Linked DNA regions of Homo sapiens. The protein of the gene in region 1 purifies or fractionates together with the protein of each later gene. This does not show direct contact. Each region holds a gene or a part of one and is shown in the gene's direction. Other genes may lie near its edges.

Region 1 (5,303 bases):
AATTAAAATGCCTTTCCATGTTTCCGCACTACATCTGCACACTGAAGCAACCACATTTGCTGTTAGAAAAGTACTCCTACTACCTAATTTCTGGTTAAACCAAGGCCTGATGTTTTCTGCTTCCATTTGTAGTGAGGGTACTTTGTATCCTATAAGCGAGGGACTATAGGGGTTTCTTTGTTCAAATTTTTCCCACATCCCTGAGAGGCTGACATGTGTTGCTGTGACCACTTAATTGATCCCAGCACTTTGGGAGGCCAAGGTGGATGGATCACCTGAGGTCAGGAGTTCGAGACCAGCCTGGCGAACATGGTGAAACCCTATCTCTACTAATGATACAAAAATCAGCCTGTTGTGGTGGCAGGCTCTTGTAGTCCCAGCTACTTGGGAGGCTGAGGCAGGAAAATTGCTTGAACCCAGGAGGCAAAGGTTGCAATGAGCCAATATTGTGCCACTACACTCCAGCCTGGGCAACAGAGTGAGACTCCATCTCAAAAAAAAAAAAAAAAGAAAACTAAGATTAAGTTACTACAATGACAGAATAGAAAGTGTCACCTACATGTAATATAGGTCAGAAGGAGAGCAACAGAAGAATACACACATGTGCACACACACACATACATACATGGACATGTGTGCAACTTGTGCATACACACACAAACACACACACATGTGCGTGCAATATACCACAATATACCATCATCCTTTCTATTTATGTGGAGACTAGTTCAATCGATTTTTCTGTCACCTAAGAATTTACCTACCCCAGGAGCCTGCCTTCCACACATACATTAATAACACCAACCAGTAATGTCAAAAGGAAAAATTACAAACCCAGAAAATTAAAGTCATTCTGCACTTGCCCTTGGTTTAACAGGCATTTCACTCTTGGCACCTTTCCTGTCCTATCATTAATAAGCATCTTATTGATACAGTTTATACTCCAAATTCTCCAGGCTTGTGAAAGTTTCCTCAGGATTGCTTGAAAATGAAAGTCCTGGCCAGGTGCGCAGTGGCTCATGCCTGTAATCCCAGCACTTTGAGAGGCCGAGGCGGGTGGATCACCCGAGGTCAGGAGTTCAAGACCAGCGTAGCCAACATGGTGAAACCCTGTCTCTACTAAAAGTACAAAAATTAGCCAGGTGTGGTCGCAGGCGCCTGTAGTCCTAGCTACTCAGGAGGCTGAGGCAGGAGAATTGCTTAAATTCGGAGGCAGAGGTTGCAGTGAGCTGAGATCGCGCCACTGCACTCCAGCCTGGGCGACAGAATGAGGCTGTCTCAAAAAAAAAAAAAAAAAAAGAAAGAAAAAAAGAAAAGAAAAGAAAAGTCCTGAGGAGAAAACTCCCACTATCTCTGTGCATGTGATCACACATATTAGTATACTATATGTGGAATGATTCCAAGTGCATTTTAAATTTATAGTACCATTTTAAATTCAAGCTGGTAATATGTACTGCCTGGCAGAACTCCTAAAGATATATCAGCTCCTTTGACATCCAGGAAGACATTTTCCTTCCAGAATTCTTCAATCTCTTTTAAATCAGTACAGTTCTATTTTTCAAATATCTACATGTGTCTACTCCATGAAGTACTGTGTCATCGTGACTATAAAAATAGTGAAACTTCTCTCTCACTTTCCAGCAGCCTGGGGCATCGCCAAGAGCCTGAAAGGACCCCTTACAGTCAAATCCACAAGGTCATTTAGACACTGGCCACCGGAGATTGCACCTAAGACTTTTCCTTTTCAAAACAGGACTCTTTTCATGATGCAATTGTTTTTCCCTTACTAACCAACCTTACTGAATTTGGTTGAAGGAAACCAGAGAGTAGCCAGCTTCCAATTAATCTGCAAGCTGGAGGGGGAATCAGTTTGCCTTTCTCATAGCATTCACCCTGAAGGATAACTCCTAATTACCAACAGGATTCCCTAACAGAGTCTAGTTTATCTCATGCCCTAGCTAGGAGAAGAGAGAAGTGGCCATTTCTGAGCCCTGGCTGGATAAGGTTTCCCCTGCTCCCATTATCTCCCCAACCCCACTATCTCCCCAACACCAGAAACTGTTCGAGGTGGAGGAGGTGAACTGCATCTGCGTGGACTGGAAGAAGGGCTCCCAAGCCACCTACACACAGGCTGCCAACAACGTGCGAGTGGTGGGCGCCCAGGTGGCCCAGATGCTCGACATCCTCTTGGTGAGTCAGCTGGCTGGCCTATGTGAGGAGGGAAGCAGTGCCTGCTGGTCTCTGTTTGGTAGAGATGCAGCTGAGAGTTATGGATTAAAGAAGGACAAAGAATTGATATCCAGACCTTACTTCTAAAACTCTGAAATTTGCCTTCATAATGACACGCCAGTGGAAGCAAAAATAAGAATCGCTAACACTTAGAAAGTGGTTTTTTAAAAATCATCTTCAATTTACAGATAAAGAAACTGAGGCCCAGAAAGTTTAACTAGTTTGCTCCCAAAGTCATAAAGCAAATGAATAGAAGACCTGCCTTTTGATCCAGACCATCTAGCTTCAGAATTCACCCACAACACCAGGTGGGCTCTGTTTCGCGTGAAACACAGCATGGCCAGAGAGAGCCACAGAGAGCCAACGGACAGTACGTGCAATTGGCATGTACCAGCTCTACTGGCCTGGTGGTATGGGTCCTATTGATGTTGGGGAATTCCTTCTGCCACAATCATTTCACTTATTTCTTCCTATACTGTTTCATTATAGCTAACTCCTTCAGTCTTTAATTCTTTAAGTTGCTAATCCTTTGTGACTATTTTCTATACCAGGTAATGACTACAGCCATTTCTGTCTTATAGTTAAAGGGTCTACAAAAGAATCAACTTCTGCACTCCTGCAGAAATCAAAACCCATGGTATTTGTGCAAGAAGTATGATAGACCAATAAATGAAGTGCCTTTGGGTGAACGTCTCTGAGATCAACATGTGCAAATACCTCATAGCTCTATTTGATTTGCTTGTTCACCAGTACTTTTGGAGCAGAATGTCAGGAGTATGTGAGGAAGTAAAGAAGACACATGAGATCCCAGACCATCAAGGAGCTTGCAGTGAAAACTTGCAATGCCAGTAGAGTGCGATCTATTAGTGGGTTCTGATGGGGAGAGTAGGAGCTTTACAGGAACACATAGAAGGCAGCTAATCCACACTGATGGGGTGGGGAAAGGGCTTAAGGAGGTCTCCCAAGGAAGAGACGTCTAAATTGACAGCTGAAGGCTAGTCTGTTGATGTTAGCTGGCAAGTGCTTGGGGGATAGACAACAACAAGAAGAGAAGAACAAACCAGGCCCAGAGGTGAGAGGCTATGATGTATTCGAGGGTCTGAAAGTTCAACAAAGGGTTTGGCTGAAGAGTCTAGAAAAATAGATGATGAGTTAGGAAAGCTCGGAGGCCTTCAGAATGAGTTTGGGCTTGATCCTGAAGGCAATGAGAGGCATGGAAGGTTTTCAGCAGAGGAGTAATATCCATTAGGCTGGCATTTTAGAAAAACCACAGCAAAAAATGTCCTGAAAATACAATCTTCCCTCTCCAGACAGAGTATAGCTACCCCCCTTCCAAAGTTCACCTCATTGGCCACAGCCTGGGAGCCCACGTGGCTGGAGAGGCAGGAAGCAAGACTCCAGGCCTGAGCAGGATTACAGGTAAGGCCCCAGAGGCAGGGCCCCAGTTTTGTCCCCAGAAACCCCAGAATGAGGTCTCAAGAATGCAGCCCAGTTCAGAGCTCCCCTGAAGGAGACTGTCCCCCTTGGCTGTGATAGAGCTGCTTGGAGCCTGCACAGAACATTTTAGGGAGCCCCCAAGAAGCTCATGCGCCACCTTCACGGCAAGGGAAGGGTGATTTTGTTCCTCTTTGCTTCTTCCACCTCTGTCCTAGCCCCTCCTTTCTAAGTCCTGGTTTTCTGGTGGTGTTCGCCTCTCAACAGGACTGGGCACCCAGGAAAATGCAGAGTGAGACTAGTATGAACATGAGCAAAACATAATCAAGGAGGGTCTATATTGCCAATTCTTTCTCCCTTCTCTTTGAAATCAAGGGCAGAATAGAACCTAAAAATTGTTTCCCACTGCTTCTACTAGTAGAAGAAACCCAGTCGCCATTATGGCCAAAAGCATTCTTTTAACCCAATCAAAGCATTTGAATTATAACAGCAACAGCAAGATATATCTACATAATATGATGGTGATAATAATAATAATAATGCTATTATAATTATTATGATAAGCATAGATTAAGTGCCTGCTTATCCCAAATACTGCACAAAATGCTTTATATTTTCTTATATAATTCTCAGAACTGAAGAAAAAGGCTCAGGGATGCAAATAACTTGCCCAAAGCCACACAACTCATCAGTGGGAGAACTGAGATCCAGACCTGGTTTTGCCGATGTTTGGCTTAAGCAACTCTTTATAAGAAATCTCTCTTTTATTTTCAGCTGGCAACTACATTCACGTTCCTATTTTATCAGCTGCTGTAATGAAGCCTTCAAAAACTATTAACAAATCCAAGATCCCTACTAAGAAGGAAATTTGTCAAAAACAATAATTATTAATATCTTACTTATACACCCATGACTATACACCAGGCATTGTGCTAAGTGCTACCTATTAACTCATTTAATCTATAACAACCATATCAAATAGATGCCATTATCACCCCATTTTGTAAAATGAAGAACCTGAAGCACAAAAAGGTAGAGTGACATGCTCAAGGTCATGCATCTTGCCCCAAAAGCAGCTGAGTAGGAATTTGGAGCCAGGCAACCTAGACCCAGAACCTGTGTTCTTAACTATGATACCACATTGCTTCACCCCTTTCTTTCTACAAGCTTGGGGAGAGAAAGGATGATGAAGAAGAAAGATACACAAGTAAATGGGAGACTCTGGTGTGGAAAAAATCCTTGCTTAAACAAAATCTAAATTTCTTTGCTCATTTGTCCTCCTCCATCCACGCCACTGGGAACCCTTTTGCAATGAGCCACATTCAGACTCTATGTCCTCATATTTAGCACCCAAGGCCATGGCACTGCATCACTCTGGTGCATGGTACCCATTGAGTTGGGCAGTGCATAGCCCGGGCAGCTGTACACCTTGGTGCTGCTGACATCTACAGTCAGGTCTATTGTTCTGCAGTGCTGATCATCTCTTTTAGGGTTGGATCCTGTAGAAGCAAGTTTCGAGAGTACTCCTGAAGAGGTGCGACTTGATCCCTCTGATGCTGACTTTGTTGATGTGATTCACACGGATGCAGCTCCCCTGATCCCATTCTTGGGTGAGACCTATGATGCTCCAGCTGTGAGCA
Region 2 (4,564 bases), on another chromosome or scaffold:
CTAGAGAGTACTGCAAGGACCTGAATGCCTCAGACAACAACACCGAGTTCCTGAAAAACTTTATTGAGCTCATGGAGAAAGTGACTCCAGACTCCAAGCAGTGTGAGTGCCTGGCAGGGCAGCTGGCTCTGGGCAGTGCCCAGGCAGCATGGGGCCAGCCCAGAGGAACCCAGAGGCCGGGCAGGTGTGGAAATAAGCAGGCACAAGCTAAGGGCTGGGCCTGGGCCAGGGCCAGGTCATGGAGGAGGCTCCTGGTGGAGCCTTAAGGGTGGGGGTGAGGGTGGGCAAGGAGCTGCAAGAAGATGCCCCCACCCCCACCCCTCCCCTCCTGTTCCAGGCAACAACTTCCTTCTGCACAACCTGATCTTGGACACGGGCATCACGCAGCAGCTGGTAGAGCGTGTGTGGAGGGACCAGGATCTCAACACGTAGGCATCACCCAGCCTGTGGGGGCAGAAGGCTAGGATGGGCCCAGAGGCCCTGGACCTGCCCAGCAGAAGGCAGGCCTGTGACCCCACCCCCCTGCTACCCCCAGGTACAGCCTACTGGCCGTGTTCGCTGCCACAGACGGTGGCATCACCCGAGTCTTCCCCAACAAGTAAGTGACCTATCCCACTACCCAAACCCTGCCCCTGCCAGGGAACCTGCATCTGTTCTGCCCAGAGGCCTCCTTGCATCTGTGGAGACCACTGTCCCCGACAAGCCACCCCTTACCTACCAGTCTGCCTCTTGGGTGCTCCAGGGCAGCTGAGGACTGGACAGAGAACCCTGAGCCCTTCAATGCCAGCTTCTACCGCCGCAGCCTGGATAACCACGGTTATGTCTTCAAGCCCCCACACCAGGATGGTGAGTGTCCCCGCAGTGTGCCCAGCAGCAGGCAGGGAGCCTCAGCTTCCCTGTCTGCTCAGCCAGAACTGGGCTCTGCTGTCTGAGGCCCCTCTCCAACACAAGGCTGGCTGAGGCCAGGGCAGACGTGAAAAGAGGGATAGACTGTGCCAAACACTGTCCTGAGTGCTGGGTGCTTGGGCTGGAGTCATCCCGGGATTGGACTGCTGGGTTTGTAGGACCCAGCATAGAGTGGTCAGTGTGGCCGCCAGACCCCACTCCTGACTTCCCCACCCAACCCCCAGCCCTGTTAAGGCCGCTGGAGCTGGAGAATGACACTGTGGGCATCCTCGTCAGCACAGCTGTGGAGCTCAGCCTAGGCAGGCGCACACTGAGGCCAGCAGGTGAATGTTTGGGACAGAGGTGGGGAAACAGGCAATGGACAGGGTACTGCCTGGGCAGGTAGCACTGATGGTCCCTTGCTCTCCCCCAAAGTGGTGGGCGTCAAGCTGGACCTAGAGGCTTGGGCTGAGAAGTTCAAGGTGCTAGCCAGCAACCGTACCCACCAAGACCAGCCTCAGAAGGTATTTGGGCAGGGGCGGGGGCAGTAACCCAGCAGTGCCCTTCCTGGAGTCCCCTGGAACCCCCACCAACCCTCCACTCAGTGGCTCCAACACCTACATGGAGGCAGGGCCAGCTGCAGATGGCCTGGGGAACCGGATGTATGAAAGGTGATGGGAGGGAGGAAAACTGGTGGGTGGCTTACGGTCCTCACTCTCTGCCCAGCAGTGCGGCCCCAACAGCCACTGTGAGATGGACTGCGAGGTTAACAATGAGGTGTGTGTGCCCTGAACCTACCCTGGACCCTAGCTTACCCCACTTCCAGACTTCCTAGTCCCAGCCGCGACTCCCAGCACATCCCTTGGCCTGTGGGTCTCAACATCCCCACCCTGACTTCACAGCCTTCCCAGGACTGGGGGAGTGATGCCCCCCAACTCTGAACCACTGGACTGCCTGCGGTGGAAGGTCCGGGGCCCAGCCCCTCTCCATTTTCCTCCCCATTCCCTTCCTCCTAGGACTTACTCTGTGTCCTCATTGATGATGGAGGATTCCTGGTGCTGTCAAACCAGAACCATCAGTGGGACCAGGTGAGGATCAGGAAGAGAGTGAAAGAAGAGAGTAGGGATTTGAGCCTTCTAGGGGTGTAGCACTGCCAGCCCTGTGACCATGGCTTTCTCCTGACATCCTCAGGTGGGCAGGTTCTTCAGTGAGGTGGATGCCAACCTGATGCTGGCACTCTACAATAACTCCTTCTACACCCGCAAGGAGTCCTATGACTATCAGGCAGCCTGTGCCCCTCAGCCCCCTGGCAACCTGGGTGCTGCACCCCGGGGTGTCTTTGTGGTGAGTCCCCAGAGATGCCTGGACTGGAGATGGGGGGGACTGGGAGACCTGCCCACAGATGACCCCCTACCTCTGACATTTGATAAAGCTGGGGGTGACCTAGGGCGAGGGGCAGCAGTGGCAGTCCACGCCCCTCTCTCCACTGCAGCCCACCGTTGCAGATTTCCTTAACCTGGCCTGGTGGACCTCTGCTGCCGCCTGGTGAGTCCTGAGCGGGAGGTGGGTAGAGAAGGTGCTCCCTGGCCGGGAGGGCTCAGAAGAGAAGTAGGGCATGGCATCGTCCTCTGCTGACCACCTGCACTCGGCTCCCCGTGCGCTGCAGGTCCCTGTTCCAGCAGCTTCTCTACGGCCTCATCTACCACAGCTGGTTCCAAGCAGGTAGGTAGGGCTTTGGAGGCGCCTCCTCAAGTCCGGGTCCCCAATCTGAGCTAAGACGACTCCATGGGGAGGGTGGGGTCTACGACTGAGGGAGGCCGGAGACCTTGCCAGGGTCTGTGGGCGGAGCTGAGGCGCTCTGGGCCCTCGCAGACCCCGCGGAGGCCGAGGGGAGCCCCGAGACGCGCGAGAGCAGCTGCGTCATGAAACAGACCCAGTACTACTTCGGCTCGGTAAACGCCTCCTACAACGCCATCATCGACTGCGGAAACTGCTCCAGGTGCTGGCAGTGGGGCGGGACCAGAGGCCAAGGGCGGAACCTGTGAGCGGGGCGAGACGCTCGGGAGGATGGAAGGGGCGGGGCCTCCGAGCGGCCGGGGGCGGGGCCGCAGGATGGGGGTGGGTCAGGGCGGGGCAAACTCAACGCCCCGCCTTTCCGGGCTGCCCGCAGGCTGTTCCACGCGCAGAGACTGACCAACACCAATCTTCTCTTTGTGGTGGCCGAGAAGCCGCTGTGCAGCCAGTGCGAGGCTGGCCGGCTGCTGCAGAAGGAGACGCACTGTATCCTGCCCCCGCCCTCCCCGCCGCCCGCTCCCCCTCTGCCCCGCGCGCCCCCTCCGTGCCGCCGCCGCCGTCCGCCTCCTTGACTCCCCACCCATGCCCAGCGGACGGCCCGGAGCAGTGTGAGCTAGTGCAGAGACCGCGATACCGGAGAGGCCCGCACATCTGCTTCGACTACAACGCGACAGTGAGGAGAGGGGGCGGTGGACCCGAAATCCCGCGGCCTTGCGCCCGCCCAGGCCGACCAGCTCCTTGTCTCTCCCCGCAGGAAGATACCTCAGACTGTGGCCGCGGGGCCTCCTTCCCGCCGTCGCTGGGCGTCCTGGTCTCCCTGCAACTGCTGCTCCTCCTGGGCCTGCCGCCCCGGCCGCAGCCTCAAGTCCTCGTCCACGCCTCTCGCCGCCTCTGAGCACCCTGCCCCACCCCACCTCCACTCCCACCTCACCCGGCCTCTTCGCCTTTCCCACCCTCCTGCCCCACACTCCCCGCCTTAGAGCCTCGTCCCTCCCTCACTGAAGGACCTGAGCTGGCCAGGCCCTGAGAGTCTGGTCTGCGCCTTGGGATGGGGAGTCCCAAAGCGGGACGCCGCAGGTGTTTGGCACCCAAATCACATCTCACCTCCGAACTGTTCAAGTGTCCCCAGACCCTTCTTGCCTGCTGGGCTCCCCCCAGTGGGATGGGACAGGGAGGCCACACGCACTGGTGCCAAAACCAGGCCTCTGCTGCCGCCCTTCCTGGAGGCTGCCTATGTTGGGGGGGACCCTGCCTCAGCTGACCCGGCCTCTCTGCCCCACCCAAGCCCAAACTTGGTTTCTGTGAGAATAGTGGAGGAAGGTGAGATGGCCAGTTTGAAGCCTGTGCCTCCCAGCTTAAATCCTAGCAGGAGAGAGGCTCTGGGGCAGCCCCCATGGGCTCCTGCCCCTTTCAGGCCTACAGCCACATCCCCAAGCCCACCAGGTGTCAGGATAGTCACAGTGATACCAGTTCAGACACTACCCCATATACACCTGGAACATTGAGGATGGAAACTGGACTCACATTCGACATACCCCACTGGGCACACGCACAAACACACACACTATGGGGTGGGGTGGGTGTAGGGGCTTACAAAGCCTTACACAGGGCGAGGGGTTGGTGGGAGGGTTGGCACCTGCACACTCCATCTCCTGCTCACCACCTGCCTCTAATCTGAGCTGCAGCCTGGCTGGTCCTCCCATTTCTAAAGCTGAATGTCAAACAGTGCCAAATGCTGGGGCAGGGGGTGAAGAACCCTCTGTCCCACCCCTAGCCACCAGTGTCCTCCAAGTGCCCCCTCACCTCTCCAGGTGCTCATTGTAACCATTTCTCACTAGTGTCAGGCCCCCAGTGGGACCACATGCCACTGCCTGCACCTTTCGGC

Evidence for each region. Proteins that work in one complex are often made in the same cells at the same time.
Region 2: the proteins of PNLIPRP1 (region 1) and CACNA2D2 purify together in Homo sapiens (affinity purification with mass spectrometry; 2 studies listed by BioGRID and IntAct, with this or other methods). This does not show direct contact.

Annotation. Positions count from the first base shown.
Region 1 is NC_000010.11:116,592,675-116,597,977, forward strand, and holds part of PNLIPRP1 (inactive pancreatic lipase-related protein 1 precursor), read left to right. Parts: intron 1-2,055; coding exon 2,056-2,190; intron 2,191-3,539; coding exon 3,540-3,648; intron 3,649-5,153; coding exon 5,154-5,273; intron 5,274-5,303. UniProt on the Homo sapiens protein: May function as inhibitor of dietary triglyceride digestion. Lacks detectable lipase activity towards triglycerides, diglycerides, phosphatidylcholine, galactolipids or cholesterol esters (in vitro).
Region 2 is NC_000003.12:50,363,676-50,368,239, reverse strand, and holds part of CACNA2D2 (voltage-dependent calcium channel subunit alpha-2/delta-2 isoform b precursor), read left to right. Parts: intron 1-4; coding exon 5-102; exon of another isoform or gene 103-337; coding exon 338-428; exon of another isoform or gene 429-444; intron 445-535; coding exon 536-598; intron 599-718; exon of another isoform or gene 719-742; coding exon 743-846; intron 847-1,130; coding exon 1,131-1,229; intron 1,230-1,320; coding exon 1,321-1,409; intron 1,410-1,611; coding exon of another isoform or gene 1,612-1,614; coding exon 1,615-1,662; intron 1,663-1,901; coding exon 1,902-1,973; exon of another isoform or gene 1,974-2,076; coding exon 2,077-2,229; exon of another isoform or gene 2,230-2,377; coding exon 2,378-2,430; exon of another isoform or gene 2,431-2,551; coding exon 2,552-2,607; exon of another isoform or gene 2,608-2,757; coding exon 2,758-2,884; intron 2,885-3,055; coding exon 3,056-3,165; intron 3,166-3,263; coding exon of another isoform or gene 3,264-3,269; coding exon 3,270-3,352; intron 3,353-3,433; coding exon 3,434-3,574; 3' UTR 3,575-4,564. UniProt on the Homo sapiens protein: The alpha-2/delta subunit of voltage-dependent calcium channels regulates calcium current density and activation/inactivation kinetics of the calcium channel.